7 linked regions of the Homo sapiens genome follow. The protein of the gene in region 5 purifies or fractionates together with the protein of the main gene of each other region. This does not show direct contact. Each region holds a gene or a part of one and is shown on either strand. Other genes may lie near its edges. The genes, in order: DHX30, AIFM1, CCNYL1, G3BP2, GRB10, ANKRD28 and PPP2R2D.

Region 1 (4,209 bases), on a different chromosome or scaffold from region 5:
GGGCAGAATGATTTGATCCTGTGGCTGCCAGGGCTTCTGACTAGTGGTAATTGATAGAATGACACAGCCAAGTTTGCTTTTAGGGAAAATCACTGACAGCAGTAGTTTTTGGCAAGACCAGAGACAGGGACACTGGATGGAAGAGAATACCAGCGGCAGCTGTGGAGGAGGTTTCTTCAACGGTATTAGAGGGCCAGGCATGAGGGCCTGTAATCCTAGCACTTTGGGAGGCTGAGGCGGGTGGATCACAAGGTCAGGAGCTCGAGAGCAGCCTGGCCGACATGGTGAAACCCCATCTCTACTAAAAATACAAAAATTAGCCGGGCCTGGTGGCGTACGCCTGTAATCCCAGCTACACAGGAAGCTGAGGCAGGAGAATCGCTTGAACCTGGCAGGCAGAGGTTGCAGTGAGCCGAGATGATGCCATTGCACTCCAGCCTGGGTGACAGAGTGAGACTCTGTCTCTAAAAAGGAACAACAACAAAAAGGTATTAGAGAAGTTGCACGGACAGCTCCTGGACAGTTGAGGAGGTGGGAGGGAGAATGGGTTGGAGGGGCAGCATGCGCCAGCAGGGGGAGCTGTGGACGAGCAATGGGTTGGCGCCTAGGTTATGGCAAGAACAGTGGCTGGTGGATGTTGGTACAGCTCAGGACCGGTGTGGGAGCATGGCCAGGACCAGCAGTGAGCCTGTGGGGACGAGATCCTCTGGTCTAGTGAAAGAGTGGTTGCAAAGGCAGGGGGAGAACGGTGCTGTCCTGCTGGGGAAGCCAGGCCAAGGAGGGATGCTTGTATTGCTGCTCTGTGGAACCAGAGGCATTCTTGTCAGAAGGGAGGCGGTGACGCAAAAGTGTGGCAGCTGAGCCTTGGATCGGGCCCTGCCCCAAGGGTTCGCGAATGTGTGTGTGGCATACCTTGGCCCCATCGTCTGTCCCATAATCCTGCGGTTTTCACGCGTCTATTCTTAATAGACAGACTTTAGAATTGGTTTGTCAAATGCTTAATAAGAAGCCTCTGCAGACTTTGATTGGAATTGTGTTCAATTTATGGATTAATTTAAGAGGTTTTTGTCTCCTCACACATAAAAGTTCTATCATCCAGGAACATATATCTCCATGGATTTACATCCTTTTGCCAAGTTGTGTGCTTAGTCCATACCTTTCTGACCCACCTTAGTTCACCTTAGGTAGGTGATGGTTTTTGTTACTGTTGTGAATAGAATTTTTAAAATTAAATTTAATTATCTCAAAAACCCAAGGAGAAAGTTTTATGAAGGCAGGCCATGGTCACTCTCCAGCTTGTCATGAGTTGGGTGGGATTGAAAGCTCACTGTAGAGAGGTTCCTGGCCCGTGGCCCGTGCTGTCTGCTGTCACATGGCCCTGATGTTCACCTGACAGGCCTTGTTCTTGCTGTCCCGCAGACTTTGTCGCCTTTACCACTCCCAGTGGCAGCTCCTGCAACCTGTGCTTTCTTTGCAGTTGCTCCTGTTCTCCCAGCTGCTCACTCATCTCACCCACGTCTTTGTTCCTTAGACCCTGGCCATCTGCATTTCTCTTCTGCTGCTTAGATTCCTTGTTTGTTTGTTTGTTTGTTTTTGGAGATAGGGTCTTGCTCTGTCACCCAGGCTGGAGTTCAGTGGTGTGATCATGGCTCACTGCAGCCTCGATCTGTAGGCCTCAAGTGATCCTCTTGCCTCAGCCTCCCAAGTCTCTGGGACTACAGGCACATACCACCACCCCTGGCTAACTGCCTCTTATATTCCGAACTGCTTGAGGGCAAGGACCAGGTCTTGTCTCTCCTGATGATGCTTAGGTGGCCAACATGTTGCTGCGTACATGCTAGAGACTTAGGCAATGTTTAATTTATATTTTCTGTAGAAAAGCATGAAGCTATAACACATTTAAAATCATATTTTTGTATAAATAGCTTTAACATTTCAAGTTATTTCTCTAGAATGTATTCCTAACATAGGATTCTTATATTCTCTTTTTTTTTTTTTTTTTTTTGAGACGGAGTTTCGCCGGAGGTTTGCTCTTGTTACCCAGGCTGGAGTGCAATGGTGCGATCTCAGCTCACCGCAACCTCTGCCTCCCAGGTTCAAGTGATTCTCCTGCCTCAGCCTCCCAAGTAGCTGGAATTACAGGCATGCACCACCATGCCCAGCTGATTTTGTGTTTTTAGTAGAGACGGGGTTTCTCCATATTGGTCAGGCTGGTCTCAAACTCCTGACCTCAGGTGATCCGCCCACCTCGGCCTCCCAAAGTGCTGGGATTACATGCGTGAGCCACCGTGCCCAGCCTTCAGGATTCTTATATTCTTATATATAACTTCTTATAACAGAAGTTGTATCCGTTTCATGGTGTGGGCTACATAGGTTTTTTTGTTTGTTTGTTTGTTTGTTTTTTTGTGGAGTCTCTATTGCCCAGGCTGGAGTGCAGCAGCCCCATCTCAGCTCACTGCAACCACTGCCTCCCAGGTTCAAGCGATTCTCCTGTCTCAGCCCCCTGAGTAGCTGAGATTACAGGTGCCCACCACCACGCCCGGCTAATTTTTGTATTTTTAGGAGGATGGGGTTTCGCCATGTTGGCCAGGCTGGTCTCCAACTCCTGACCTCGAGTAGTCCACCTGCCTGGGCCTCCCAGAGTTCTGGGATTACAGGTGTGAGCCACTGTGCCCGTCTGGCTACGTATTTTTTTTTCTTTTCTTTTCTTTTTTTTTTTGAGACGGAATCTTGCTCTGTCGCCCAGGTTGGAGTGCAGTGCCATGATCTTGGCTCACTGCAAGCTCCGCCTCCCAGGTTCACGCCATTCTCCTGCCTCAGCCTCCCAAGTAGCTGGGACTACAGGCACTCGCCACCACGCCTGGCTAATTTTTTTGTATTTTTAGTAGAGACAGGGTTTCACCGTGTTGGCCAGGATGGTCTCGATCTCCTGACGTCATGATCCGCCCGTCTCGGCCTCCCAAAGTGCTGGGATTACAGGTGTGAGCCACCGCACCCGGCCCTACGTACTTTTTAATTGCTGTATTTACTGAAGCTTCCTAGATCATTATGTGAATGTATCTTCTTGGGCTTGGTGCGGTGGCTCATGTCTGTAATCCTAGCACTTTGGGAGGCCAAGGCGGGCGGATCTGTTGGGTCCAGGAGTTCAAGACCATCCTGGGCAACATGGTGAAGCCCTGTTGCTACAAAAATTCGCTGGGCGTTGTGGTGCATGCCTTTAGTCCCAGTTACTTTGGAAGTTGAGGTGGGAGGGTCACCTGAGCCCAGGAGGCAGAGGTTGTAGTGAGCCGTGATTGTGCCACTGCACTCCAGTCTGGGTGACAGAGCGAGACCCTGTGTCAAAAAAACAAAAAACAAACAGTATCTTCTGCTCACCCATTGCCATGTGGGGTTATTTGTTTGCATCAAAGCTAGGCATCTTTGAGAGTTCCATGCCCAGTTCTGGACTAGGGGCTGAAGTGGGTAAACAGATGAAAAACCACGGCTGCACAACACAACTTAACGGTGTAGCTGGACACGGACCAGGCCGACTGAGGTGTAAAGATGGTATCAATCCTTAAAACGTCCCTTTTCCCCTCCAGGGTTGGGGTCTGCTAGGTCCCCGGAATGAGTTGTTTGACGCAGCCAAATACCGAGTGCTAGCTGATCGCTTTGGCTCCCCTGCCGACAGCTGGTGGCGTCCGGAACCCACCATGCCCCCTACTTCCTGGCGGCAGCTGAATCCAGAGAGTATTCGACCAGGGGGACCTGGGGGCCTATCCCGCTCTTTAGGCCGGGAAGAAGAGGAGGACGAGGAGGAAGAGCTAGAAGAAGGGACCATAGATGTTACCGACTTCTTGTCCATGACCCAGCAGGATTCCCACGCTCCACTCAGGGACTCAAGGTACAGATGGAGGATGGGGATGCAGCAGAGGCTGGCTGTGCCTTGACACGGGGATGGGCGAATGTTCTCTGCTAGCTTTCTCTGAGATGGGAGCGCCCCTGCCTCACATTTCAGCCTGTGTGCCCCATCACTCAGTGTGTGTCTGCCCATTCTTGGGGGACAGCCAGCTGTGGTCTTCTATGTGGCTGGGCTTTTGCAGAACAGCAGCATGGAGCCCCTGCTCTCTGCTATCTTATCTGTGTGAGGGAATGGAGGGAGCAGTCCCCATGCAGTGTGGCTGTGGGAGGAGCAGAGACGCCCGGTTTCCCATCCATTTCATGCCTTCT
Region 2 (4,209 bases), on a different chromosome or scaffold from region 5:
GTCCTGGCTAACACGGTGAAACCCCATCTCTACTAAAAATACAAAAAATTAGCCAGGCGTGGTTACAGGCGCCTGTAGTCCCAGCTACTCGGGAGGCTGAGGCAGGAGAATGGCCTGAACCCGGGAAGCGGAGCTTGCAGTGAGCCGAGATCGCGCCACTGCACTCCAGCCTGGGTGACAGAGCGAGACTCCATCTCAAAAAAAAATAAATAAATAAACCTTAATTAAACTCTTCCTACTGATCCTGCCAAACACATCTCTGGGATTCACAGAAAAGCTATATAAGACTAGAGAAAGAAAATCAAGGTCACTCCTCAATACTCACCCTTTCTGCCAAGAGCACAGGCCAGTTCGCTACCAAGGAAGCCCCCACCGATAATCGTAATTGATTTGACTTCCCGTGAAATCTTCTCCAAGCTTCTAAAGTCTCCAATCTGCAGGATCACATCAGTTTAGTCCATTAATTTCCAAAAGGGGCATAGGATAATAATACTAGAAAGTAGTTTCTTCTAAATCTTTGGCAAAAGTAAATTTTCTCCTTGTATAAAGTGACTCAATTATAACTTCTATGTTATTAATGCAAATTTATTTCTTCATGGTAAAATTCCTTCTATAAACAGTGGTTCTCAATTGGTGGCAGTTTTGTCCCTATCTTCCCCAGGAGGACATCTGGCAATATCTGAAGACATTTTTGGTTGTCAGGGCAAGTAGGTGCTCCCAGCATTTAGTGTGCAGAGGCCAGGATGCTGCTAACATACTACAATGGCATAAGACAGCCCCCACTACAATTATCCAGCTCAAAATGCCAATACTGCAGAGGCTGACAAGCCTTGTTCTAGGAAGAACTTAAAAGACAGTACACAGCCTGGCCAACAGGGTAAAACGTCCCTACTAAAAATACAAAAAAAAAAAAAATTAGCCGGTCGTGGTGGCACATGCCTGTAATTCTAGCTACTTGGAAGGCTGAGGCACAAGAATCGCTTGAACCCGGGAGGCGGAGGTTGCAGTGAGCCAAGATCGCACCACCGCACTCCAGCCTGGGTGATAGAGCGAGATTCAGTCTCGAAAAAAAAAAAAAGACAGGACAAATCTTATCCCTGAAAAATGACAGCAGTTTTTATAAGCACAGTGTTAAGAAGCAGAACACCTCCTTGCTTTTTATTTAGGTACTCTTAACTTTTTTCTCAGAAGTCTCTACACAGCACTTGCAATGAAAAATGCCAAGAGGCTGTAAGGGGTTCCAATGAATCAAACACATCAGGAAAAAACAACTATGGAAGAGCAATCAGAAGGATCTATTGCAAGCAATACAAACACTCCATTTTTTCCCTAGGAGCTTAAAACCCTTGAGTGAGGTATCTGAGGTGCAGAGAGAGGAAGTGACTTGTTCAAGGCCAGATAACAAGTCTGGAGAAGAGCCATAAATAGAACTTGGATCTCCCAAGTCCCGGGTGGGCACTTGGGGACTGCAAGATTATACTACTTCTTCAAAAACAACACAAGGAAAACACTAAAGCAGACAATTACCTTTCTGAAAAGCGTTGTTCTACTCTTCACCTCTGCTCCAGCCCTATCAATGGCAGACAGACTTCTTGGAGTACCTCCTGGAAATAAGAGAAGGAAAACCCTTTAGCCCAACAAGCAGGAGCCAGCCCAAACAATACTCCCTCCACCACACAAAGGTGGAGCCCTCTTCACTTAGCACCATGGCGGCAACAACAGGATAGGATACCAAGGCTTTGTTTGCCTTCAGCTTGCCTCACAGCAGGCTTTCTGTCAGTTTCCTTTGAGAAGCAGATTTGAGAGTCTGTCTTCAAGGGGTACACCCTGCCCCTAGGTGGCCAAAAGGCCTTACTTTTGGCTTCCATGTTCTCTTCTAGTTTCTCATGAGGATTTGCCAGCTAGCATAGCTACATGGGTTTGATAAATTGCTTCTGTCTCCTCTCTTGGTTTCTGATTGCAACTGGCAATGAAGCCACAAACGACATCACTTTCAAGGCACAGGGCACAGGGTGAGGGTTAAGCAGGGAGAGAAAAAAGGGCAACTTCTTCATGCCTCTACCGGGAGAACAGCAAGGATCATCCAGAAGGGCTGGTGATCCAGGATGCTTTGACACAGCCAGCTTTTGTACCAAGAGAAGACACTCACTTCAGAGAGTCTGGGTTTCCATTTTCTTAAGTAGTAATGCCTTCCATAGAGAAGGCTGGACTCTAAAACTTGAATGAGCTGTATCAGGGAAGAAAGCCATCTCCAGAAATGCTCACCTGTTGCAATCAAGCACTTTTCATAGGTTATTTGAGAGCCATCATTAAGTTTCACCATGTTGTCTCTCACATCCAGCTGTACTACCTGGTACAGTCACACACATACACAAAAGAGGTAGAGATGAATTAGCATTGAAAAAGTTTTATTGAGATATAATTCACATCAAATTCACCATTTTAAAGTGTGGAATTCTGTGGATTTCAGTATATTCACAAGGTTGTGCCACCATCACCACTATCTGATTTCAGAACATTTCCATCACCACCCCAAAACTCCAGGTCAATAAGAAGTTGTCAGCCCAGGACAGGCACAGTGACTCATGCCTGTAATCCCAACACTTTGGGAGGCTGAGGCAGGCAGATCACTGAGGCCACGAGTTTGAGACCAGCCTGGCCAACATGGCGAAACCCCGTCTCTACTAAAAATACAAAAATTGGCCAGGTGTGGCGGCATATGCCTGTGGTCCCAGCTACTGGGGAGGCTGAGGCAGGAGAATCGCTTGAACCTGGGAGGCAGAGGTTGCAGTGAGCCGAGATCATGCCACTGCACTCCAGCCTGGGCAACAGAGCAAGATTCTGTCTCAAAAACAAAACAAAACAAAAAAACCCCAAAACCACAACAACAAAAACAAACAAAAACAAAAACAAAAAAAGTTGTCAGCCCAATAAGAAGAATGAGTTCTTGACCTAAAGCGATCCTTAAGAAACCATATCCAAGTAATCATGGGAACCACAGTTTCTGGTACCCAGTTTTTTTAGGCAGTCATATGTTGGAAATTGGCAATGAGAAGGCAGGCAACATTAGAGCAAGTCATGACAGTCCCAAAGCCCTGACCCATGTGTGGAAAAGGAGAATCGGAACAGCCTTTCTTATATGGCTGTTTGGAATTACTTATTATTACTTTATTAATAAGTCTCCTACATCTACAACATTTTTACAGAATGCTTTCTCCAACTTGTAGCCTTCACGGAAACTTGGCTCTCTCTTAAGGAGAGCTTACACATAGAGGCTGTTCGTTCCCCCACACTCCACATCACAAGGCCAGGAGGAGGTGTTGGCATTCTGCAAGCTTCTTGAGGTTACTGGTCTGCTGCTTCCAGATTCTTGTACTTTCATTCTCTTCTGAGGGACATCAGAGGAGTCCTATATTCCTACGAATCACTGTTTTGAGCCACCTCCTGGCTACTCCTCCTGATTCACTGAAGACCTTGGAACCTGGCTCATACTTTTCCTCATCTTGTTATCTCCTAAACCTCTCCTCCTACCTCAATTATTCTACTTGTTGGTCACAATTTTCCATCCCTTCAGCTTTCGCTCAGTCTGTCTCCTATGCTTGCTTTCAATTTTCTCTGTTTATTTGACTAGCTGCTCCATTCTAACTAATTTGGGCCAATGGTAGAACACCCAAACTGTTCTTTTGCCAGTACCTTTAATTCCCTTGCACCCTACTCCTTCTTATGGTTAAGAGCTTGAGCTTTGGAGTCAGAGAGAATAGGGCCCCAGTCTTTGCACCACTCTTTACTAGCTGAGACCATTCAATTAAGCACCTACTATGTATCAAGTTGAGACAGTGATCCTTGCTGCTTTCAGAGTTTAGTGGCCAAGACAATTTAACAAGCACTAACAATAATCAAGAGTGACAAATGTGATGTAAGTGGTAAGAACAGTGCAGGTAGCGCTGGGAACATATGACATGTGCAATCTAGTCAGGTTGGGTTGGGTAAAGCTTTCTAGAGGCAATGACATGAACTGAGATCTGATGGATAAGCAGCTTCTTTAGCCTCCTTTGATTTGTCCTTGGTAAGCTCCCTCTTCAATCCAATCCCGCTACTCAACCCTCACGGTGTTCGCTCTCAGATAACCATCTTATGTTCTATTGTATTGCAAAAACAAATGAAGCCATTAGATGTGATCTTCCATAGCTTCCCATGAGGCATGAGGGC
Region 3 (4,209 bases), on a different chromosome or scaffold from region 5:
ACATTTGTCTCATCCCCCTGCTGTTGACTATTTGTAGTGGTCTCATTTTGAGTCTAAATTGAAACAATTTTAAATTGGTGTCTATCAGGTTTTTCTTAAAAATTTTCAACAGCTACATGTCCTGTTAGAATATATTTCCCTTTAAAAGAATAAGTTAAACTGAGCAGCTGCTATTCAGACGGTTTGCTGTGCCTGTAAAGGGTATGCTATTCAGCCACCTAGCCATTTAAAAAAAAACAAAAAACCTAGAAGATGCATATTCTGTAAGCATAATGCTTTTCTTCAGTGATTAAACCTCTATTAATATGTGTGTTAATCCTATGAAGTACTATATTTCTACACAGTTAAAATGTATTAGTGGAAAAAATATAAAAGGGATTGTGAAGTGCATTTATTGCTGTAGTAAATTAAGTCCTGGTTAGCTGATTATCAAAACATTATCTGATTTACATTTCTATAGGCTTATGGACATATGAACAGGAAATTAATTTTGGAAGTAGGTTCAGTTGGGTTTTTAAGCTCAGCAAATGAGAAAACCACATCTCTGCTCATATTAACTGCTCTCCATACAGGAGATCATCAAGCATTTGTTGACTTACCCAGTGGATAAAATATTAAAACTTTGAAACCAAGAAACCAAATATGTTGTTTAGGTATTTATCATTTTTATACAGTTAACTCCTTATAGGGATTACTGTGAAAGTGGTTAAGATTTTCTCTAGTTTTATGTTTATTTGCTTAAGCATTTGGCAAGGGCAGCTGTGTGGTCATGTAGCCGACTACTACTCCCAGCCCTTTCCTCTCCCATTGCATTCAGCTCACTCCTACATTCTGTTCTGACCAGGACGGTAGATACTGAGCACCTCAGGGTTTCATTCCCAACTCAGAAGAAACACTGAGTTTTTAAGTCCAGTGACCTACCATAAGTCATATCATAAAATGGGTTTAGTCTAGCCAAGACATCCACCTTTGATCTTTCTGCCTTCCAAAGTTTAAAGAGTATCCTCACCCTGTCATAGTGACAATTTCTCACCTTCATAATATTAAAGTGAGCAGAAACTTGCATTATGCCCTTTGACATAGCCTCATGCGCCGGGACAGGGGGAGGGGATTCCCTTCCCCTGTAATGTAGCTTGCTTATTTATTTATTTGAGATGAATCCTTGTTGCCTCAAGAGTTTTTCCCCCTCAGAGATAATAGCAGTGGCTCTTGATGGATCCATTTGTTGCCGTGGTGATATGCCTACTCCTTTTGTTGGTGCTTCTCTACTTCAATAAGCCCCTTCCTGTTATCAGCCTGGTGAAAATGTCTGCAAGTTCTTCAGAGCTAATAAACAGCATACATCATTCCTTTCATCTGATCACTATAGTGGGGCCTTGTGAGTGAGCGTGAAGTATGAATTGTACAGCTGCACTAATGGAACTCTGAAGAATGAGGCCCGAGTCAGCAGCACAAGTGCATCGGAGGCCGTAACCTTCAACCTTCATCCCAGTTCCAGAGTGCTGGGATGCAGAAGGGACCACAAGTAACTGTACCTTATGTGAACATTAGTATGTTAATACAACTGGGTAGCCTATATTTTAAAATAGAGTTTAGAGCCATTCTAGTCTCTTAGAATGATATTTTTGAAGATAGCCCAGTTGACTGACATTGTCCTGTGCTGGTTCTGTTGTGTTCTTCCTCCTCCAGGAATGAAATGGAAAGGCATTTTCTGGAGCTTCTTCAGTTTAATATTAATGTTCCTGCCAGTGTTTATGCCAAATACTACTTTGACCTTCGCTCCTTAGCAGATGACAACAACCTGAATTTTCTATTTGCTCCTCTTAGCAAAGAAAGAGCACAGAACCTAGAGGTAAGGCTATGAAGTCACTAAGTGAGGTTTTCCATCAGCCACCAAAGCCAACATCTGTGACTAAATCATATTAAGTAGTGATTAGGAAAATGGAAAGCTTTAAAATTAACTAACACTGAAGAGCTTATTAGCCCTTTGGCGTCAGATTTCCTGTGTCTTGTATGGTTTATACAAGGATCAACATTATTTAAAAATTATACATATTAACTCTTCTGTGACCATAATTCAGAATATTTTAAATCAAATTTAATCTGTTGTTAATGAGGTTTCCTTTTGAACTTCTACCCTTTCACATAACCATACATGAATAATTTTTTTAGCTGGGCACTGTGGCTCATGTCTGTAATCCCAGCACTTTGGGAGGCTGAGGTGGGCAGATCACTTGAGGTCAGGAGTTCAAGACCAGCCTGGCGAACATGGTGAAACCCTGTCCCTACTAAAAATACACACACAGGCCGGGCGCGGTGGCTTACGCCTGTAAGCCCAGCACTTTGGGAGGCCGAGGAGGGCAGATCACCTGAGGTTGGGAGTTCAAGACCAGCCTGACCAACATGGAGAAACCCCGTCTCTACTAAAAATACAAAATTAGCCGGCCGTGGTGGCGCATGCCTGTAATCCCAGCTACTCGGGAGGCTGAGGCAGGAGAATCGCTTGAACCCGGGAGGCGGAGGTTGTGGTGAGCTGAAATCGTGCCATTGCACTCCAGCCTGGGCAACAAGAGCGAAACTCCATCTCAAAAAAAAAAAAAAAAAGTACACACACACAAAAATACAGGCATGGGGGTGCATGCCTGTAATCCCAGCTACTTGGGAGGCTGAGGCATGAGCATCGCTTGAACCTGGGAGGCGGAGGTTGCAGTGAGCCAAGATTGCACCGCTGCACTCTAGCCTAGGTGACGGAGTGAGATTGTGTCTCCAAAAAAAAAAAATTTTTTCTTTGCGACTGTATTCCTAATTTTATCTACATACATAATTCACTTGCCACTCTTGACTGTCTTACTTACTGTTTGCAAATTCATGTCATGGTTTATGTATCACAGTGCAGTCCCATGAGTTTTTTAGACAAAGGATTAGTGGATAAGCCAAGAGACCTATACCCTTCACTGTATAGGATGCAGGTGTTTCAAATGCTGGATGTAAGTGGTAGGCATGGTGGCTCACACCTGTAATTCCAGCATTTTGGGAGGCCGAGGCAGGTGGATCACTTGAGATCAGGACTTCAAGACCAGCCTTACCAACACAGAGAAACCCGGTCTCTACTAAAAATTCAAAAATTAGCCGGGCGTGGTGGCAGACGCCCAGTTACTCAGGAGGCTGAGGCATGAGAATTGCTTGAACCCGGGAGGCGGAGGCTGCAGTGAGCCGAGATCATGCCACTGCACTCCAGCCTGGGCGATAGAGCAAGACCCTTGTCTCAAAAAAAAAAAAATAATAATGTAGGAAGTACATGGGTTTTTAATAGAAATGGTAACTTTATGGGGCAAAGTAATATTTATGGCTTATGACTCTTGGTGAGTATACAGCAGAATTACAACTGAAATGGACACATATTTTAAACTAACACTTTCTGTGGTACCTTGGTGGTACTTTAGAATAATATGTATTTCTAGGCTGGGCTCAGTGGCACATGCCTGAGAGTGGCTCATGCCTCAGAGGCTCATTCCTCCCAGCACTTTGGGAGGCCGAGGCAGGCGGGATCACCTGAGGTCAGGAGTTTGAGACCAGCCTGGCCAACATGGTGAAACCCTGTCTCTACTAAAAATACAAAAAATTAGCTGGGTATGGTGGCACATGCCTGTAATCCTAGCTACTTGGGAGGCTGAGGCAGGAGAATCGCTTGAACCTGGGAGATAGAGGTTGCAATGAGCTGAGATCACTCCAGCCTGGGCAACGAGCGAAACTCTGCCTCAAAAAAAAAAAAGAAAAAAATAATAATATGTATTTCTACCATAATTAACGTGCATGTGAAGTAATACCTTTTGGCGCGTCAGTCATCAGACCGCTCATATGTTCCAGTATAGTCCAGCACACACCTGCCTCATTAAAATGTGCTTTGAGTATATAATAGCTAATAAGGATTGGGTAGAATTTGAATAGCTGAATAAACATTTTTTTGCACAAGTGTACGTTTGTTATATTTAAGGAATAAGTTAACAGATAACAGATGCTATTGCTGTTAGGAGCCCTATCACAATACCTTTGATATCTTTGGGAATCCAGTTTTTTAATAATATAATAAATTCCCCTTTGTTCTCTGGGAATCTAACCATAGCCCTTAAAGGATATTACCTTGGTGAACTGTCAGGAAGTAGTGTCCCCACAACCTGGCAGTGTAAAACTCAGCCAAAGTAGCTGTAA
Region 4 (4,209 bases), on a different chromosome or scaffold from region 5:
TTTTCTAAAAAGGTTGTTAGGTGAGGCTAACAACCACCTTATTGAAGATGGTAGTTATCTTTGAAGGTGCTAATCTAAGAACTTTCTAAAGATTTCTTTTTGTGTATAAGTATCCTTTAATCTTGGCTATCTTTTTTTTTTTTTTTTTAAACAGTGTCTCACTCCTGTTACCCAGGTTTGAGTGCGGTGGTGCCATCTTGGCTCGCTGCAGCCTTGACTTCCCGGGCTCAGGCATTCCTCCCACCTCAGCTTCCCGAGTAGCTGGAGCTACGCTTGCACACTACCACGCCCCGCTAATTTTTTGTATTTTTTAGTAGAGACGGGGTTTTGCCATGTTGCCTGGGCTGGTCTCAAACACCTGAGCTCAAGCGATTCACCCACTTTGGCCTCCCAAAATATTGGGATTACAGGTGTGAGCCACTGCACCAGGCCTTCTTGGCTATCTTTGTAGAACTGTATAGTCTTGTAGGCTTGACCGGGGATTTCTTCTCAATTTGTAAACTAGGAAATCGAGATCCAGTAAGGTCATGAGTTTTTCATGGCCATGGATAAGATAGTTGAAACCTTTTACTCCCATATTCAGAATTTTGTTTCGTTTTGTTAACTTTTTTTAAGAAATGGAAGGTCCCAGATCTAGAAATGGATTACCTGTAAGATGATTTGCTATGAATAATAAAAATGGCACAATTCTTTCTTCTTGTAATCACTTTTATTCTGAAAGTGTAATTTGGCTTTTTTCCTTTTTCTCAACCTTCTTACGTACACTGCATGAATTATAAATACGAACTTTATATTACTTACTCAATTTTCATAGTCTTATTTCCTGCAATACCCAAACCACGTTGTTTGATGGTTGATCTCTAGTAGTCATTTTCTGGTTGATTTCTATCAATTATATTTTGGCTCTCTAAATTCTGAGTCACTTCAAATCGGAGTTATGGTTAAAGAAGTAACTGATGTAATTAGTTGAAACACTGTTCTCTCAGTAAATCTTGATTTTGTTTTACCATTCCTTTGGGAGCCTCCTCTGCACCTTAAAAGCTCAGCTTTCTATATAACCTGTTATATGCCTGTTTAGATTTTACCAGATTAGCATTGCCTTACTTATTTACCATTTGAAGTTAACTTTTCAAGTTACTGCCTTCCAATAGTTCTAAGTATTAATTTATTGAGTATTGATTAATCAAATATTACTTCTACTGCCCTTCCCTGTCTCTCTGTTCTAAATTGATGGTATGTTGGCCATTATACTTCAGTGACCATGTAGATAGTGGGCAATTTGAAGCTTTTTTTGAACCTTGTTACAACAAATCTTTAGAGCATTTTGACCTGTGATATTATATATGTATTATGTACCATTTTATTTTGGTTTGAGAAACAAATATGTAAGTGACAAAAATGATAGATCAGTATGTACTCTATGAATATGATGGGAAATTTGGGATAAATGACAACAGTGTTCCTGTAGAAAATCTGGAAATCCAGAGAGAAGAAAACAATTCCCAAACCCGGAAATTCCTAATAGTATTTCTGTCACTATCAATTTAAAGAAAACTATTTTGTGTATAGTTATTTTGTTCAGAGAGTAATGTAGTATTTTCCCATGTGTTAGTATTATTTTACCATCAGTTTTTATGGTGTTAAAATACATATAATTTCCATGTTTTAGTTATCTTGTTAAATTTTACCAGGTAAGTCTACTGTTCTTTACCCACCCTCATTATTCAAAATAAAAATGTTAGTTGCTTAGCTGTGTGTGTGTGTGTGTGTGTGTGTGTGTTTGTTTGTGTGTTTGTGTGTGTGTGTGTGTTTGTGTGTTTGTGACTACAGGTGTGCACCACCATGTCTGGCTAATTTTAGATGGGGTTTTGCCTTGTTGCCCAGGCTGGTCTTCAGCTCCTAAGCTCAAGCAGTCTGCCCACTTCGACGTCCCAAAGTGCTGGGATTACAGGCGTGAGCCACAGCCCAGTGCTTTGTTACTTTAAATGTAGCATATGTGAGTCCTTTTTGCACTAGGGTTGTTACCCTTATTGGGAGTTTTAAGTTTTCTGGAAAATCAATGACACCTGAAATGGCAGTATTTGGATCTGCTCTTTGTGAATTAACTATTTTTGAAAGCAAGTGAGGCATTATAAAAAATTTTAAACAGATTTGGGGATTTTTGTAAATCAAGTTTGAGAGTTTAAGAAGGACAGTTAGAGGAGGGATAGTTTGTTGGAAAGGAAGAAACAAGGAACCTAAAAACATAATGTAGAAGTTGAATTGTGAGTCACTAGAATTATGTAAAGCTACACTCTATCTGTAAGCTCTACTATAGTTGGTATTTGATTTTTATTAAAAACAGCATCACAATTTTAATGACCTATGCAGGGCTGTCTCTGAAATTGTTTTAGTTATTTAAAGTAAACACACATGGAAATTGACTTTTTATTTTTAATTTTTTGTATAGAGATGGGGTCTCTCTGTTGGCCAGGCTGGTCTTGAACTCCTGGCCTCAAGCTTTCCTGCCACCTCCACCTCCCAAAGTGCTGGGATTACAGGCATGATCCACTGTGCCAGCCTGCAGTGTTTTTTTGTCTGTTTGTTTTGAGACAGAGTCTTACTCAGTTGCCCAGGCTGGAGTGCAGTGGTGTGATCGCGGCTCACTGCAACCTTTGTCCCCCAGGTTAAAGTGATTTTTTGTGCCTCAGTCTCCTGAGTAGCTGAGATTACAGGTGTGTGCCATCAGCTCTGCTAATTATTTGTATTTTTAGTAGAGATGGGGTTTCACCATCTTGGTCAGGCTGGTCTCGAACTCCTGATCTCAAATGATCCTCCCAGCTCAACCTGAAGTTTAAGCAGGACTTTATTTATTTATTGAGATGGAGCCTCACTCTGTTGTTGCCCAGGCTGCAGTGCAGAGGCATGATCTTGGCCCACTACAAACTCTGCCTCCTGGGATCAAGCGATTCTCCTGCCTCAGCTTCCCAAGTAGCTGGGACTACAGGCGCCAGCCACCACGCCTGGCAAATTTTTGTATTTTACTAGAGAAGGGGTTTTACCATTTTGGCCAGGCTGGTCTCGAACTCCTGACCTCAGGCGATCTGCCCACCTTGGCCTCCTGAAGTGCTGGGATTACAGGCGTCAGCCACCGCACCTGGCTAAGCAGGAATTTCAACTGCATCCTGATTTACCCAGTAGATACATGCTTAGGAATTATGATTTTTTTTTTTTAGTACTTTTAAGTTTAATAGGTCTTTTTAAAATAAAACAGGTGGCTGGGCACGGTGGCTCACGCCTGTAATCCCAGCACTTTGGGAGGCTGAGGCAGGTGGATCACGAGGTCAGGAGTTCAAGACCAGTCTGGCTAACATGGTGAAACCCCGTCTCTACTAATAATACAAAAATTAGCCAGGTGTGGTGACACGTGCCTGTAGTCCCAGCTACTCGGGAGGCTGAGGCAAGAGAATTGCTCTGCCGGGAGGCAGAGGTTGCAGTGAGCCAAGATCGTACCACTGGACTCCAGCCTGGGCAACAGAGCAAGACTCCATCTCAAAAATAAAATAGGTTATATTTCATATTTTTATTTTTTATTTTTTTGAGACGAGTCTCGCTCTGTCGCCCAGGCTGGAGTGCACTGGCGCGATCTTGGTTCACTGCAACCTCCGCCTCCCGGGTTCAAGCAATTCTCTGCCTCAGCCTCCGGAGTGGCTGGGATTACAGGCACCCACCACCACACCTGGCTAATTTTTTTATTTTTAGTAGAGATGGGGTTTCACCATCTTGGCCAGGCTGGTCTTGAACTCCTGCCCTTGTGATCCACCCGCCTTGCCTCCCAAAGTGCTGGGATTACAGGTGTGAGCCACCGTACCTGGCCCTGGGGATTATATTCCTACAGTAAATGATAAGTTTTGTTTGTGGCTCACACCTGAAGTGAGAGGATCACTTGAGGCCAGGAGTTCGAGACCAGTCAGGGCATTGTAGCCAGACCTCGTCTCTGCTAAAAATAAAAATTAAAAAATTTAAAAAAATTAGCCAGGTGCATGCTTATAGTCCCAGCCACTCAGGAGATTTAGCGGGGAGGATCGCTTGAGCCTGAGCCTGAGCCTGGCAGTTGAGGCTGCAGTGAGCCATGATTGCACCACTAAACTCCAGCCTAGGTGACAGAGCGAGACCCTGTCTCAGAAGACAAAAATAGGAAATTGTATTTATTTCATGTTAGTTGTTCTT
Region 5 (4,209 bases):
CCACACACAAACCCCTGCCACAGTGTCAGCCCCTACTTAACCTTTCTGGGCTGGAACCAGTGTCAGTGTTGGGTGCTGCTCTGTTTCTGTCTCTTGTTTCACTTCTGGAATCCCAGGGAAGGGAGAGTCCTGATCCTGGGAGACACCTGTGATTCAGTCAGCTGAGTCCAGGCCAGTGGGGTCGTGCTATGCAGCTGTGGCTGTGTGCGGCCTACCGGAGGGGGTGGGGAGGAGAGAAGGGGGTGCTGAAGGGAGCTGAGCAGATGCTCTGAATGGCTTCTCCCTGGAGACAGGTAGAAATGCAGCCCAGCTCTAATGATTGAATTGTCTCTGGAATGTCAGTCATGATGAATACATGTAATATGCATGCTTCCATACAGTCATACTTGTCTTGGTGTTTCCCCTCTACCCCTTCCATAATATTTGAAAAATAGGATTGAGGTTTGGAACCTGATCACCAAGATGTACATTTGGGTTTGATTGCTCTCCATTGTTAAAGTTTCTTTTTTGCTCTTGCCTTTTTCTGTGCAGAGGATGATGTGGACCTGGAAGCCCTGGTGAACGATATGAATGCATCCCTGGAGAGCCTGTACTCGGCCTGCAGCATGCAGTCAGACACGGTGCCCCTCCTGCAGAATGGCCAGCATGCCCGCAGCCAGCCTCGGGCTTCAGGCCCTCCTCGGTCCATCCAGCCACAGGTGTCCCCGAGGCAGAGGGTGCAGCGCTCCCAGCCTGTGCACATCCTCGCTGTCAGGTAGGTCCAGGCCTTATGGGCAGAGCCTTCTCCAAGGATGAGAGCTGTCGGCAGGGACACTGCTCTCTGTGAGTTAAATGGTGTTGGGGGGAATAGTGTTGGTCTTGCAAAGTCAAGAGGCAGATACATTGCTTTGATGGGATAACGGATACACTGAGTGTGTGCAGTGTGCCGCCCTTGGGTTGAACTTTGTAGCCAGTTCAATTCCAGTAGTACCTTTTATTGAGTGCCTGCTATGTGCAAGGCACTGTGCTAGGTAGAGGGATATGCAGGAAAACCACCAGAGGAAAAATCTCTGGAAAGATTGGAAGAACAGCCATGGAGCTGATTGCATGCCCCAAGTCCTCACTACCCAGAGTAGGGACGGGAGGCTAGCAGCTACAGCACCCCCTGGAGCTTGTCGTGCAACCCCAGACCTCCCTCAGAGTTGCATTTTGCCACATTCCTCTGCTAATTCAGGGGTAGGCACATCTCTGTGGAAACAGGGAGGCTGGAGGGAGGAACGTGCTGGGGACGTTGAGGGAGGTTCCTGGGAGGTAGGATTTCTGAACGGATGTCAAAGGGTGATAGGAGCTCAGATAGATGGAGGCAGAGGTTTTGTGAGCAGAAGAGATGATGCAGATGGGGGCCGGTGCTGAAGCACTTTGTGTGCCTTTTTCAGGAGCCACGTGAGAAAGAGTTCTGGACAGGCGTGTGAAGGGGCTGGGTTTGGGTTTTGACACCAGCATTCTGGTTGCCAGGGGTCGTGGGGGCAGTGGTAGAGGGCAGCAGGGTTGGCAGAGCATGGCCGGTTTGGAAGTGGTCTCAGGAGCCCCCGGATGGGAGATGATTGTGCGCTGCCTGAGGATGAAGAAGGAGGGGGGATTTGAGCACGTTGCTGAGGAGGAGCAGCTGCGTTTTGCCAGCACTTGAATTTTGCCAGGGCTGTGAGGAGACAGAGAGTGTGTGGAGGGTGACTTGGATTTTGTCTCGAGTGCCTGGGAGGAGGGTGTCTAGAGAATGGTCATGTCGAAGGTGAAGGTGCTGAGAGTACCTTAGACATTCTGAATGAAGATCTTTGTAGAATCAAGCTGAGAGCCAGGGGCAGCCCTCAAGGATCCGCCTGTCTGCCCTGTCGCAGTCGGGATGGCGTGGGGCTCCGTGGGACCCTGCGTGCCTCTCTGGGCCTTTGCGGAGGATGTACAGCCATCTCTGCTGGGACTGCCCCTTGCCCTCACTGGCCTCTGTCAGGATGGGGTTCTGGTGCCTTCTGTCTCAGCACCCCATCTTCCGGGGAGCTCTGTTCATTTCCTGGGCTCTTCTTGCTTCTAGAAACTTCTGAGAGTTTTCTTTGTGGTCTGACATCTTGGGTCTTCCGCAGCCCAGATAATCACCTTGCCCCAGGTGGCAGCTGTTTCTTACGGAGGGGAGAGGGTGCAGCGGCCCTGGCGCCCGTGGTCAGCTGCCTCCCCAGCTTCCCACCCCGGCTTCCCCTCCGACTTCTCACTTTTTGTCATATTCATTGATGCTGAATGATGCCTGTCCCAGGGTTTGTTCAACTTTGCTCTTTGAAGCGTGACCCCTTGTACTTAGCTCCTGAGGAGTTAAGTCTGGTGGGAGAGCTGTTTTTCTCTTGGGAGCATCTCTTGGGAGCATCACAGTAGCCTTGGGGAGTGCCTGGGAATATGGAGGTGCAGTTGCATGGCGAAGGTGCCCGAGGGTGGGCTGGAAAGCCAGAAGGCCTGCCTCCCTGCTGGAGTAGTTGCCCAGGACCCTTGAACCTCGAGTTCTGGCTGAACTCGCCCATATGTGCCCCGGGACTACCTGCGCTAAGTCCCTGGGATGGAGGGGCAGGCTTGCTCTGTGGGACAGCAAAGCCCTCTCCCTACAGGGTCACAGGTGCTGTTCCTTGGGCCCAATGTCTTCTCTCTGGTGTCCTCTCAGATAAGTAGTTTTGTTTCTTACTTTCAGGTGGATTAAAAAAAAATGTGGAGATCAATCTGGAATCACCAAAGATTATTTTGTGAAGTGAGGCCATTTGCTGAGTGCTTACTGTGTGCAGATGCTGATGAGCTCCTCCTTGTTATCAGTGCCCTCGGAGGGAGGCAGTGTGGGTTACCCTCGCTTCCCAGCTGAGGAAACCGTGGCACAGCGGGGCGGTAACTGGGCTCACCACATCAGGTGGGAAGTGGCCATGGAGCAGGCTGCTGGGTACCAGAGGTCACGGAGCATGGTCCACGCTGCAGAGGAACTTACCGGGGGCTGCCATGCAACCCGAAGGGAGCTGGGGGGCAGGCAGGGTATGGGCAGAGGAGACACTTGGGAAGGGCAAGAAGGCTTTGCACATAGGAAAGCCGATGGGTGAGCCGATTCTGTACAGAGAAGGAACCCAGGCTTTTGAGAGTGCAAGGGCCACGCATGTGTTCTAGACAAACACAAGTGAGCCAAGGCACAGAGAAGAAGGACCTCGCCCCTCAGCTCTGCAGTTCCTGCCACCATCCCTGACATCCCTAAATCTCAGCACCCCTCTCCATAGTCACTGTCCCTTCTATTGTGAGCCTCTTTGGTGGGGATTTTTTGTCTTTGTGTGATATCCCTTAGTCTTGCCTTAGGCGATGTCTCTGAGCCGCTTTAAAGTCAACACAGGACTTTTTAAAATGCTCAAAACAACCCAATAAATAGAGAAGCTTTTGTGGACACTAAAACGTCAGATTATCTTTTTGGGGTGAAGTCACTGGCTAGAAGCCGTGGATGGGAAAGTGGCACTGGCCACCCGTTTTATCCATCTCCTCCTGTATGACAATGGCCAGACGTTTCAGTTGGACGCCTTGCCAAGGCTGAAGCTGTTATGGGAAGAGTGGGATTTGTTCACAGTAAAAATAAACTTTATGGCATGTCATCAAACCATTATAGGAACGGCTTTCCTGTATTTCGCAGCACTGATTCCCTTCATGCCATGTGAGTTCTCGTAATTTTAAATCCATGCATCATTTGCTGGTCTACGTGGGATAGTTAGCTGGATCTTCCTTTAAAAAATAGGGAAAGTTGGTAAAAGAGAAAAAGTAATACAGTCACAAAATGTGTTTCTGTAGTGGCAAATCTCCTGGGAAAGCTAACGGATTGTTGATTTTGTGAAATCGTAAAAATTGTCAAAAAAATTACTTGAGGACACAGCCTATGATGGGGGTTTCTGAGGTATGTTTAAACATGGGGAGGGATTGGAAATGCCGAGTGAAGATAATGTGAGGTTTGCTCCCCTCTCCTTGAAGGTAGGAGGCTGCAGACAGGGCCGCGTGGCCTCAGGAAGGGTGGAGGAGGCTGTGTGTCCAGGAGTGCCCTGGAGGTGTGGGCCAGAAGTTACTCTACAGAGGGGAGGTGCCAGACACTTGACATTCGCTTTGACTTTGAACTTGATTTCTCTGCTGTTCACAGTTGCTTCTGATTCGTCATACTGTGTGTGTGTTGCATAGTTGTGT
Region 6 (4,209 bases), on a different chromosome or scaffold from region 5:
CCGTGTAAGTAAAGCCAGAATGAATCAGATTTGGTTTGAGTGTTTTAAGAAATACACCATTGCTGTGAGAATGATCACCTTGTTACCTTACACAGGATAAATGACAACGAAGGTGCTGCTGAGATGTTAATTGATACATTAGGTGCCAGCATTGTGAACGCCACAGATTCAAAAGGAAGGTAGGAATTCAACTATGTATTAAATAGTTTTAGCCAGGCACAGTGGCTCATGCCTATAATCCTAACAATCTGGGAGGCTGAAGTGGGAGGATGACTTGAAGCCAGGAGTTTAAGACCAGCCTGGTCAACATAGCAAGACCTGCATCTCTACCAAAAAAAAAAAAAGTGCATGATGATGCATGCCTGTGATCCCAGCTGTTCAGGAGGCTGAGGCAGGAGGATCACTTGAGCCCAGGAGTTTGAGGCAACAGTGAGCTATGATTGCACCACTGCATTCCAGCCTGGGTGACAGAGTGAGATCCCGTCTGGGCCCTACCCCCCAAAAAGGTTTTATTTTCAATAAGAAATAAATTTTAACTACTGGCTGGTGTGAGAGAATTTACAGAAAACCCATTATTAAAAGTTGATTTTTATATTTGCGAGTATAAATTGTTATAAGATCTCAATTATTTTTACATTATAAAAGGTTTTTCTATTTATAGATTTTAGGAAGTTTTCCTCCTTTAAACTATTTTAACATGTAAATATTTTTCCCTCTCTTTCGAATTTGTTTCCCAAAGATTATTGTTAACAAAGTTAACAGTTTTCTAAATGGGAATAAAGCCTGGAAAAAAGTCCAGCAGTTGTAATAAGTGGTGGTATTCAGATTAGGATTTATTTCTTTCAAAATTTCCTTTAATGATGTAATGTTATTTTAGCAATTTTGTAATTAATCTTTACTTCATACTAGTTCTAGTTTAATTAAAGCCTTCTGTATTATTGAAAGTACAAATTTCTATGAGAGAAATTAGTAAGCTCCATTGAGCCTATTTGTTTGTGTACAGGCAGTGCTTTTGTAGCCTAATATGTAAACCCTTAAAAACAGCATGTCACAAATTAAAGAATATTTTTCCAGCATATATAACATTCAAATTTAGTCATATATTTCAATTTTTCTTTATCACAGAACTCCTCTCCATGCAGCCGCCTTCACAGACCATGTAGAGTGTTTACAGCTGCTGCTCAGCCATAATGCTCAAGTCAATTCTGTGGACTCTACAGGGAAAACACCTCTTATGATGGCTGCAGAAAATGGACAAACAAATACAGTTGGTAAAGAAACTTCTTTAAAATTGTATTTTCCTAAGTATGTGTATCACTTATGTATAACTTAGATCCCAAGACTTCTGACTTCAACTAGTTATCTTACCACTCCTAAGACTTAAAACCTTTTACCTGTTTGCAATCCACATTTTCATTTAGGGATACAATGTTTTAGTTTGCCCTGACTATTGAGGAGTCTACTTTACCATGGCCTTATAACATAGTGGTTAAGAACACTGGCTGTGGAGTTGGATTGCCTGAATGTGAGTCCTAGATCTTTCAGCTAAATGACCTTATGCCTCAGTTTTCTCATTTATAAAATGAGAAAAATAACAGTATCTACTTGGTGTGTTGTTGTGAGGGTTAAATAAATTACTTTAAATCCAGAGCATATAAAACAGTATTTAAAATTTAGTGCACAGTCACAAAATAAATGTTAATTGCCATTGTTAGAGTGTGTGACTTATACAACAATATAATTGTCTCATACAATTATATGAAGATATATATGTTATATATTACAATATTTTTCTTGTACTTAAGTTTTTGTGAGAGGGACTTTTTTGCTTTGTATCTTCATTTCTCTACAGTGAGTTATTGGTAATCTAAGAAACATGTTCATAAACATAAGAATTGATGCACTTTTTCCTCCCAGAGATGCTGGTTAGCAGTGCTAGTGCAGAACTGACTTTACAAGATAACAGTAAAAATACTGCCCTCCATTTGGCTTGTAGCAAGGTATGTATACATCTTAAGAATATGTTTCCATTGTTAATATTAACAGTGACCTTAAAAGTTTTTTGACTTCACTAAAATGAACAACTCAGGACCAAACCTCTCTAATGATCACTGGTATTAGATTTCTTGAACAAAATTGACTTATAAGGCACCATGGCGTATCAAAGTCTCCAGTAAGCCAAATAAGTTTTGGAACACAAGTCTAAGCATAATTATCCTCTTTCCTTAATCTTAATTTTGTCCTCTTCTCCTACCCTCACTCCCAAGATGTGTTTGGGCAAATATTAAGATATTAGCCAGGAAAATTCATGGTATATGTATGGTGTTGTACATAATATATGGACTAGGATTGCAGATTGTTGGGTGTATAAATGTATCTTTAATGGTGCTCAAGTTTTTATAACTTATCTGCCACAATTATAGGGTCATGAAACTAGTGCCTTGTTAATACTGGAAAAGATAACAGATAGAAACCTCATCAATGCAACCAACGCAGCCTTGCAAACGTGAGTACTGTCAGTATCTAGTATAAACTTTGTGACCTATAATTATAAAAATGATAAATGGATTTTTTTAAACATGTGACTATTGGAATAGGTTTCATTAGTCATAGAAGCAATTTTAATAGTTTTACAACTGTCAAAACTCATTTCTAAAATGATCACAACTAAAAGCCATATTATTTAAAATGCTTTTGAACTGAAATTTTATTATAACATTGACAATAATGTATTTTTTTCCTTAATCCACCTACCTAATTTTCTGAAGGAAAGTAGTACTATTTTGTGTATTCTGTGGAAATCAACTGTAATAATATGTTACTTGAAACTAACAATAAATGAGGTAAGAAGCTTTATGTGTGTCTGTAAGCCAATAAGGTTTCTTAAAGAATCAAAATTTTTAATAATGTGAGCAGCCAACCTCCAGATAGACTGACAGAGATCTTACATCAGTGTCTCTCATTGTCCCTTGCTATTCCATTTTGAGGTTTAGTAAAGATAAAAATCTTAGAATATTGTTGCCCGTTCTGGGATTAGTCAGATCCCTTGAAGGTCCAAAAATTAGTCATGATGCTTGTAAGCTGTTTTCAAAGCCTATTAGAATTTATGCTACTGCAGTTTACAGTTTTTAATGTATAGTCTGTATCTTTACCAGCCTCATTCCTTAACAACGGAGGAATGCAATTTCAATGGTAAAATGTTTTTAAACATTGAAAAGAAAAGTAACAAAAGGATTGGGTGAAGGTAGGGACCTGTCGATGGGACCTATGGCTGAGCTTGATGCCGAGCTACACGTTGACAAGGTGTGACAGTGCACTGCACAGAGGTTCTGCTCTCCCTGCCCCCATCTTTGTTATTAGGACTAGGTTTCTCGAGTTTGTACCTCTTGGTCTTCACAAGTTGACAAAAATGCTCTTTGACAGCCAGGTGTGTATGTGTATGTGCATGCACATGCACATATGTGTACATGTATCATGTTTTTTCCCCTAGACCTCTGCATGTTGCTGCCCGAAATGGGCTAACAATGGTGGTTCAGGAACTTTTGGGAAAAGGAGCAAGTGTGCTTGCAGTAGATGAAAATGGTAAGTTGGTTCTATATTCTCTTCCCTTAACCTAGAGCTTTTATCTTTTGATCCATATTTGAAGAGAAATAAACTTGGATATTTTTTATTGGTCAAAGAGGAGAGCTAAAGTTAATATTGAAGAGTAGTTTGTGGCAAAGGAATAAGGGCAAAAGAAATAGGAAAAGTTATCTAACAGATGTACTTCCGAATTCCTATATCATCTGTTACAGCAAAGTTAGTATTTACTGTTTATACTTGCCACTTTCTGTTGTTTTAGTAGCCAAAGATTTTGTTCTTTCAGCAAATATGTATCAAGATCCTAGTTAAGTACTAATATTCTTATTTAAAGCCAGTGTTTCTACTCATGCACTAGATCCTGTCCCCTTTTGCCTACTTCATAATGTCAGTTTGACAGTTCTCTTTTGTGTCCTGGAGTAACATTTTTCGCTCTCTTCCTGTATTATTCCTCTCAGTATATAAACATTAGTTCCCTCATCCTTAAAAAATAATTTATAAATCTCACTGCTCCTGCCAGCTACTGCCATATTTCTCTGTCCCCTTTTGCAGCAAAACTACTCTCTTGCTGTCCGCAGTTATTCCTCTCATTCTTCCATTCTTTTGTTGTTGTTGTTGTTGTTTGTTTTT
Region 7 (4,209 bases), on a different chromosome or scaffold from region 5:
TGCGGGGGGGGTCCCTGTCTTATCAGTGACTTGCGGGTGTGTGTGGGGGGTTCACTGTCTTAGCAGTGACTTGCGGGGGGGGTCCCTGTCTTATCAGTGACTTGCGAGTGTGCGGGGGTTCACTGTCTTAGTGACTTGCGGGTGTGCAGGGGGTTCACTGTCTTAGTGACTTGCGGGTGTGCAGGGGGTTTCACTGTCTTAGCAGTGACTTGCGGGTGTGTGTGGGAGGTTCACTGTCTTAGCAGTGACTTGCGGGGGTTCCCTGTCTTAGCAGTGACTTGCAGGTTTGCGGGGGTTCACTGTCTTAGTGACTTGCGGGTGTGCGGGGGGTTTCACTGTCTTAGCAGTGACTTGCGGTTGTGTGTGGGGGGGTTCACTGTCTTAGCAGTGACTTGCGGGGGGGTCCCTGTCTTAGCAGTGACTTGCAGGTATGCGGGGGTTCACTGTCTTAGTGACTTGCAGGTGTGCGGGGGTTCACTGTCTTAGTGACTTCCAGTTGTGCGGGGGGTTCACTTAGCAGTGACTTGCAGGTGTGTGGGGGGTTCACTGTCTTAGCAGTGACTTGCGGGGGGTCCCTGTCTTAGCAGTGACTTGCAGGTGTGCGGGGGTTCACTGTCTTAGTGACTTGTGGGTGTGCGGGGGGTTCACTTAGTGACTTGCAGGTGTGCAGGGGGTTTCACTGTCTTAGCAGTGACTTGTGGTTGTGTGTGTGGGGGTCACTGTCTTAGCAGTGACTTGCGGGTATGCGGGGGTTCATTGTCTTAGTGACTTGCGGGTGTGCAGGGGTTCACTGTCTTAGTGACTTCCAAGTGTGCGGGGGGTTCACTGTCTTAGCAGTGACTTGCGGGTGTGTGGGGGGGTCACTGTCTTAGTGACTTGCTGGTGTGCGGGGGTTCACTGTCTTAGTGACTTGCGAGTGTGCGGGGGGTTCACTGTCTTAGCAGTGACTTGCGGGTACATGGATAGTCACTGTATTTTTTATTCCTCTTGATATATTTCAAATATTGCAAAATACCCTTAGATTACATATCCCCAAGAACATCTAAAAGCGTTCCCAGTAACATTTGCTTAGTCCATTCACTCTCAAAAACACGCCAGTCTTCCTACCTGGAAACTTCTGTTGAGGGATGCGATGAAGGGGAGTGAGGCGTTTCAGTGCTGCCTCAGCCCAATCCTGATTCTCCGTGTGGCAGCGCCTTCTTGTGTTCTAGGTCGCCCCACAGAACCAGTTATGTGCTTACGCCTGTGTCTCTGTCTGTGCTGTTCCCTTCCTGGGCCAGCACCAGGCTGCTGGGCAGCGCCCTTGTTTGCAGTGTGGAAACACCCACTCTGGGGCTGGCACTATCTGTCGAGAATTTAAAAGTGATCATAAATCTGTATGAAAGCTGATGTGCTTTTCGTTATTACCATGCACCAGCAATTCCAGTCAGTGTCGGCCATACATCATCTGTCGTCTGTGTTCTGAATAATGGTTACTGTTGAGTTTTAATAACATAAATGTAAGCTTCAGATTCACACATTCTTATTACTTACCCTTTCGTAAACATTGTGTTTTATGTGGAAACTAATTTGGGGAACCCCCAGTCAATGGCCCTCACGTGCCAACTTGGCTGCATACCCCTGTTCCAAGACCACGTGCACAGCTTGGCATTGCTGGAGGGCGCTGGGCACACCTTGTGTCTCCCGCCTCTGTGGCGCTGTGGGCTCCTGGATGGAAGCAGGAGATGGGAAATAAACATGGATCGCTGAATGCAGTTTCTCTTCTCTGAGTTCGTCTTTTTTTTTTTTTTTTCCCCTGCTTTGAAGTTTTAGACAAGGTCAGTCAGACACTAGGTATTTGCCAGCAGCCAGGGTCAGTGCTGGGCCATGGAAGGGAAGCGGCCCGCTTCTTTCTCATGGCACCTTGAAGACGCGCCAGCGTGAAAGGCCTCTCACCGCGCATGACCATGGGGGCAGGACGTGAGGGCGCGGGTTAGTGTCAAAATAGGAAGAGGAGGCGAGCTTCAAGGACGGCTGGAGAAACCAGAAGGGCATTGTTTGAACACATCTTTCATCAGAAACTGGACTCATGAAGCCATGGGTCAAATCATGGCAGCGTTTGCATCATTCAGCTATTTTTCTGTCATTTTTGTAGAAAATGTAAGATTGCAGAGGTTTTTACCAGTATTATGAAGTTATATCATGAGGATGTGTGCGGTAGTAGAATTTTTCGACAGCAGAGACATTTGAAAGCCATTACAGTTGATCTTGAAGAAACAAAAGCATGGACGGTATTGTATTGTCTGGAATGTGTGTGAAATGCAGTTGTTCTAAAATTCTGCCACACTTTGCCCAGTGGATTTTTACTATTTCTATCCGTTGCCTCATTTGAAAGAAACTTTTTGAAATTAATAGAAAAGCAGTTTAACTCCAAAGAAACATTGACAGATATGACTAGTAACTGTTGAACATGATAAGGATTATGTTCAGGTCATTATGGATCATTGACAAATTGCAGAACATAAGGCTTAAAAATAAACTGTGCTGTTATTCATGAGTGAGATAAATAGGTGGGGTTGTTTCAAAAAATACACTAATGTTAAAAGTGTGACTCCATTATTTTGTTTCTCCTGTGACATGGATTCTTACTGACATGATTATAGATAAAGCTCGGTACACATTTTCACTGCATTTCTCTTCTGCCCATTGTGATTGATCATTCCTGATTTCTGAAAGTAACTGGGTTGTGGGGGAGGGTGGCGTGCGCTGTGCACCCCAGGGGTGGGGTCTGAGTCCTTGCTGCCGCTCCCCCCACTGAGGAGTGCTGCTGTCTGCTCTTGTTTTGAACAGCGCCATCATGACCGGGTCCTATAACAACTTCTTCAGGATGTTTGATAGAGACACGCGGAGGGATGTGACCCTGGAGGCCTCGAGAGAGAGCAGCAAACCGCGCGCCAGCCTCAAACCCCGGAAGGTGTGTACGGGGGGTAAGCGGAGGAAAGACGAGATCAGTGTGGACAGTCTGGACTTCAACAAGAAGATCCTGCACACAGCCTGGCACCCCGTGGACAATGTCATTGCCGTGGCTGCCACCAATAACTTGTACATATTCCAGGACAAAATCAACTAGAGACGCGAACGTGAGGACCAAGTCTTGTCTTGCATAGTTAAGCCGGACATTTTTCTGTCAGAGAAAAGGCATCATTGTCCGCTCCATTAAGAACAGTGACGCACCTGCTACTTCCCTTCACAGACACAGGAGAAAGCCGCCTCCGCTGGAGGCCCGGTGTGGTTCCGCCTCGGCGAGGCGCGAGACAGGCGCTGCTGCTCACGTGGAGACGCTCTCGAAGCAGAGTTGACGGACACTGCTCCCAAAAGGTCATTACTCAGAATAAATGTATTTATTTCAGTCCGAGCCTTCCTTTCCAATTTATAGACCAAAAAATTAACATCCAAGAGAAAAGTTATTGTCAGATACCGCTCTTTCTCCAACTTTCCCTCTTTCTCTGCCATCACACTTGGGCCTTCACTGCAGCGTGGTGTGGCCACCGTCCGTGTCCTCTCGGCCTTCCTCCGAGTCCAGGTGGACTCTGTGGATGTGTGGATGTGGCCCGAGCAGGCTCAGGCGGCCCCACTCACCCACAGCATCCGCCGCCACCCCTTCGGGTGTGAGCGCTCAATAAAAACAACACACTATAAAGTGTTTTTAAATCCAAACAGAAGTATTGTCTTTTTATTTAATTTTATTGCATAGAATGAAGTTATGCAGGGTTCTTCTTTGGAACTAACTGTTTGAGAAATGTGTGTCCTTCTTTGGCAGCGTGGGGGTATGTGTGCAGCATTTCTGTCCCCAAGCTGCTGCCCGCTGTGTTTCTGTAGAAGTAGCCCATCAGATACACCAGGTAAGGTCTGGGAAAAGCCAGAACCGAGGCCACCTCTGAGAAAGAAAATTGCAAGGAAGAACCAAAATTGCTGCCATCCAGTAAGCCTGGTTTAAAGTAGCTTCAAATTCACTACAGTTGAAGAAATACGTGCTTGCTTTCTAAGGCTTTTGAAAAAGCACTTTGGGGAAAGTATACTTTTTAAACATTGCTAAAATTACATGCATGCTAAATTTCATCCTGCATTTCAAGCCAGCAAAATTAAGCAATTTTAATTACACGATGCCACCAGTACGTTGGTTTATTTTCAAAGTAGGATCTTTGATACCAGAAATCAAGATTTTCCAAG

Evidence for each region.
Region 1: the proteins of GRB10 (region 5) and DHX30 purify together in Homo sapiens (affinity purification with mass spectrometry; one large-scale study listed by BioGRID and IntAct). This does not show direct contact.
Region 2: the proteins of GRB10 (region 5) and AIFM1 purify together in Homo sapiens (affinity purification with mass spectrometry; one large-scale study listed by BioGRID and IntAct). This does not show direct contact.
Region 3: the proteins of GRB10 (region 5) and CCNYL1 purify together in Homo sapiens (affinity purification with mass spectrometry; one large-scale study listed by BioGRID and IntAct). This does not show direct contact.
Region 4: the proteins of GRB10 (region 5) and G3BP2 purify together in Homo sapiens (affinity purification with mass spectrometry; one large-scale study listed by BioGRID and IntAct). This does not show direct contact.
Region 6: the proteins of GRB10 (region 5) and ANKRD28 purify together in Homo sapiens (affinity purification with mass spectrometry; one large-scale study listed by BioGRID and IntAct). This does not show direct contact.
Region 7: the proteins of GRB10 (region 5) and PPP2R2D purify together in Homo sapiens (affinity purification with mass spectrometry; 2 studies listed by BioGRID and IntAct, with this or other methods). This does not show direct contact.

What each region holds. Positions count from the first base shown.
Region 1 is NC_000003.12:47,837,296-47,841,504, forward strand, and holds part of DHX30 (ATP-dependent RNA helicase DHX30), read left to right. Parts: intron 1-3,581; coding exon 3,582-3,883; intron 3,884-4,209.
Region 2 is NC_000023.11:130,138,268-130,142,476, forward strand, and holds part of AIFM1 (apoptosis-inducing factor 1, mitochondrial isoform AIF precursor), read right to left. Parts: intron 2,351-4,209; coding exon 2,266-2,350; intron 1,605-2,265; coding exon 1,528-1,604; intron 435-1,527; coding exon 326-434; intron 1-325. UniProt on the Homo sapiens protein: Functions both as NADH oxidoreductase and as regulator of apoptosis.
Region 3 is NC_000002.12:207,749,268-207,753,476, forward strand, and holds part of CCNYL1 (cyclin-Y-like protein 1), read left to right. Parts: intron 1-1,689; coding exon 1,690-1,852; intron 1,853-4,209. UniProt on the Homo sapiens protein: Key regulator of Wnt signaling implicated in various biological processes including male fertility, embryonic neurogenesis and cortex development. Activates the cyclin-dependent kinase CDK16, and promotes sperm maturation.
Region 4 is NC_000004.12:75,663,228-75,667,436, reverse strand, and holds part of G3BP2 (ras GTPase-activating protein-binding protein 2), read left to right. Parts: intron 1-4,209.
Region 5 is NC_000007.14:50,670,981-50,675,189, reverse strand, and holds part of GRB10 (growth factor receptor-bound protein 10), read left to right. Parts: intron 1-531; coding exon 532-754; intron 755-4,209.
Region 6 is NC_000003.12:15,675,271-15,679,479, reverse strand, and holds part of ANKRD28 (serine/threonine-protein phosphatase 6 regulatory ankyrin repeat subunit A), read left to right. Parts: coding exon 1-4; intron 5-95; coding exon 96-179; intron 180-1,125; coding exon 1,126-1,271; intron 1,272-1,852; coding exon of another isoform or gene 1,853-1,866; exon of another isoform or gene 1,867-1,917; coding exon 1,918-2,000; intron 2,001-2,423; coding exon 2,424-2,506; coding exon of another isoform or gene 2,507-2,510; intron 2,511-3,490; coding exon 3,491-3,582; intron 3,583-4,209. UniProt on the Homo sapiens protein: Regulatory subunit of protein phosphatase 6 (PP6) that may be involved in the recognition of phosphoprotein substrates. Involved in the PP6-mediated dephosphorylation of NFKBIE opposing its degradation in response to TNF-alpha.
Region 7 is NC_000010.11:131,952,855-131,957,063, forward strand, and holds part of PPP2R2D (serine/threonine-protein phosphatase 2A 55 kDa regulatory subunit B delta isoform), read left to right. Parts: intron 1-2,829; coding exon 2,830-3,109; 3' UTR 3,110-4,209. UniProt on the Homo sapiens protein: Substrate-recognition subunit of protein phosphatase 2A (PP2A) that plays a key role in cell cycle by controlling mitosis entry and exit. Involved in chromosome clustering during late mitosis by mediating dephosphorylation of MKI67.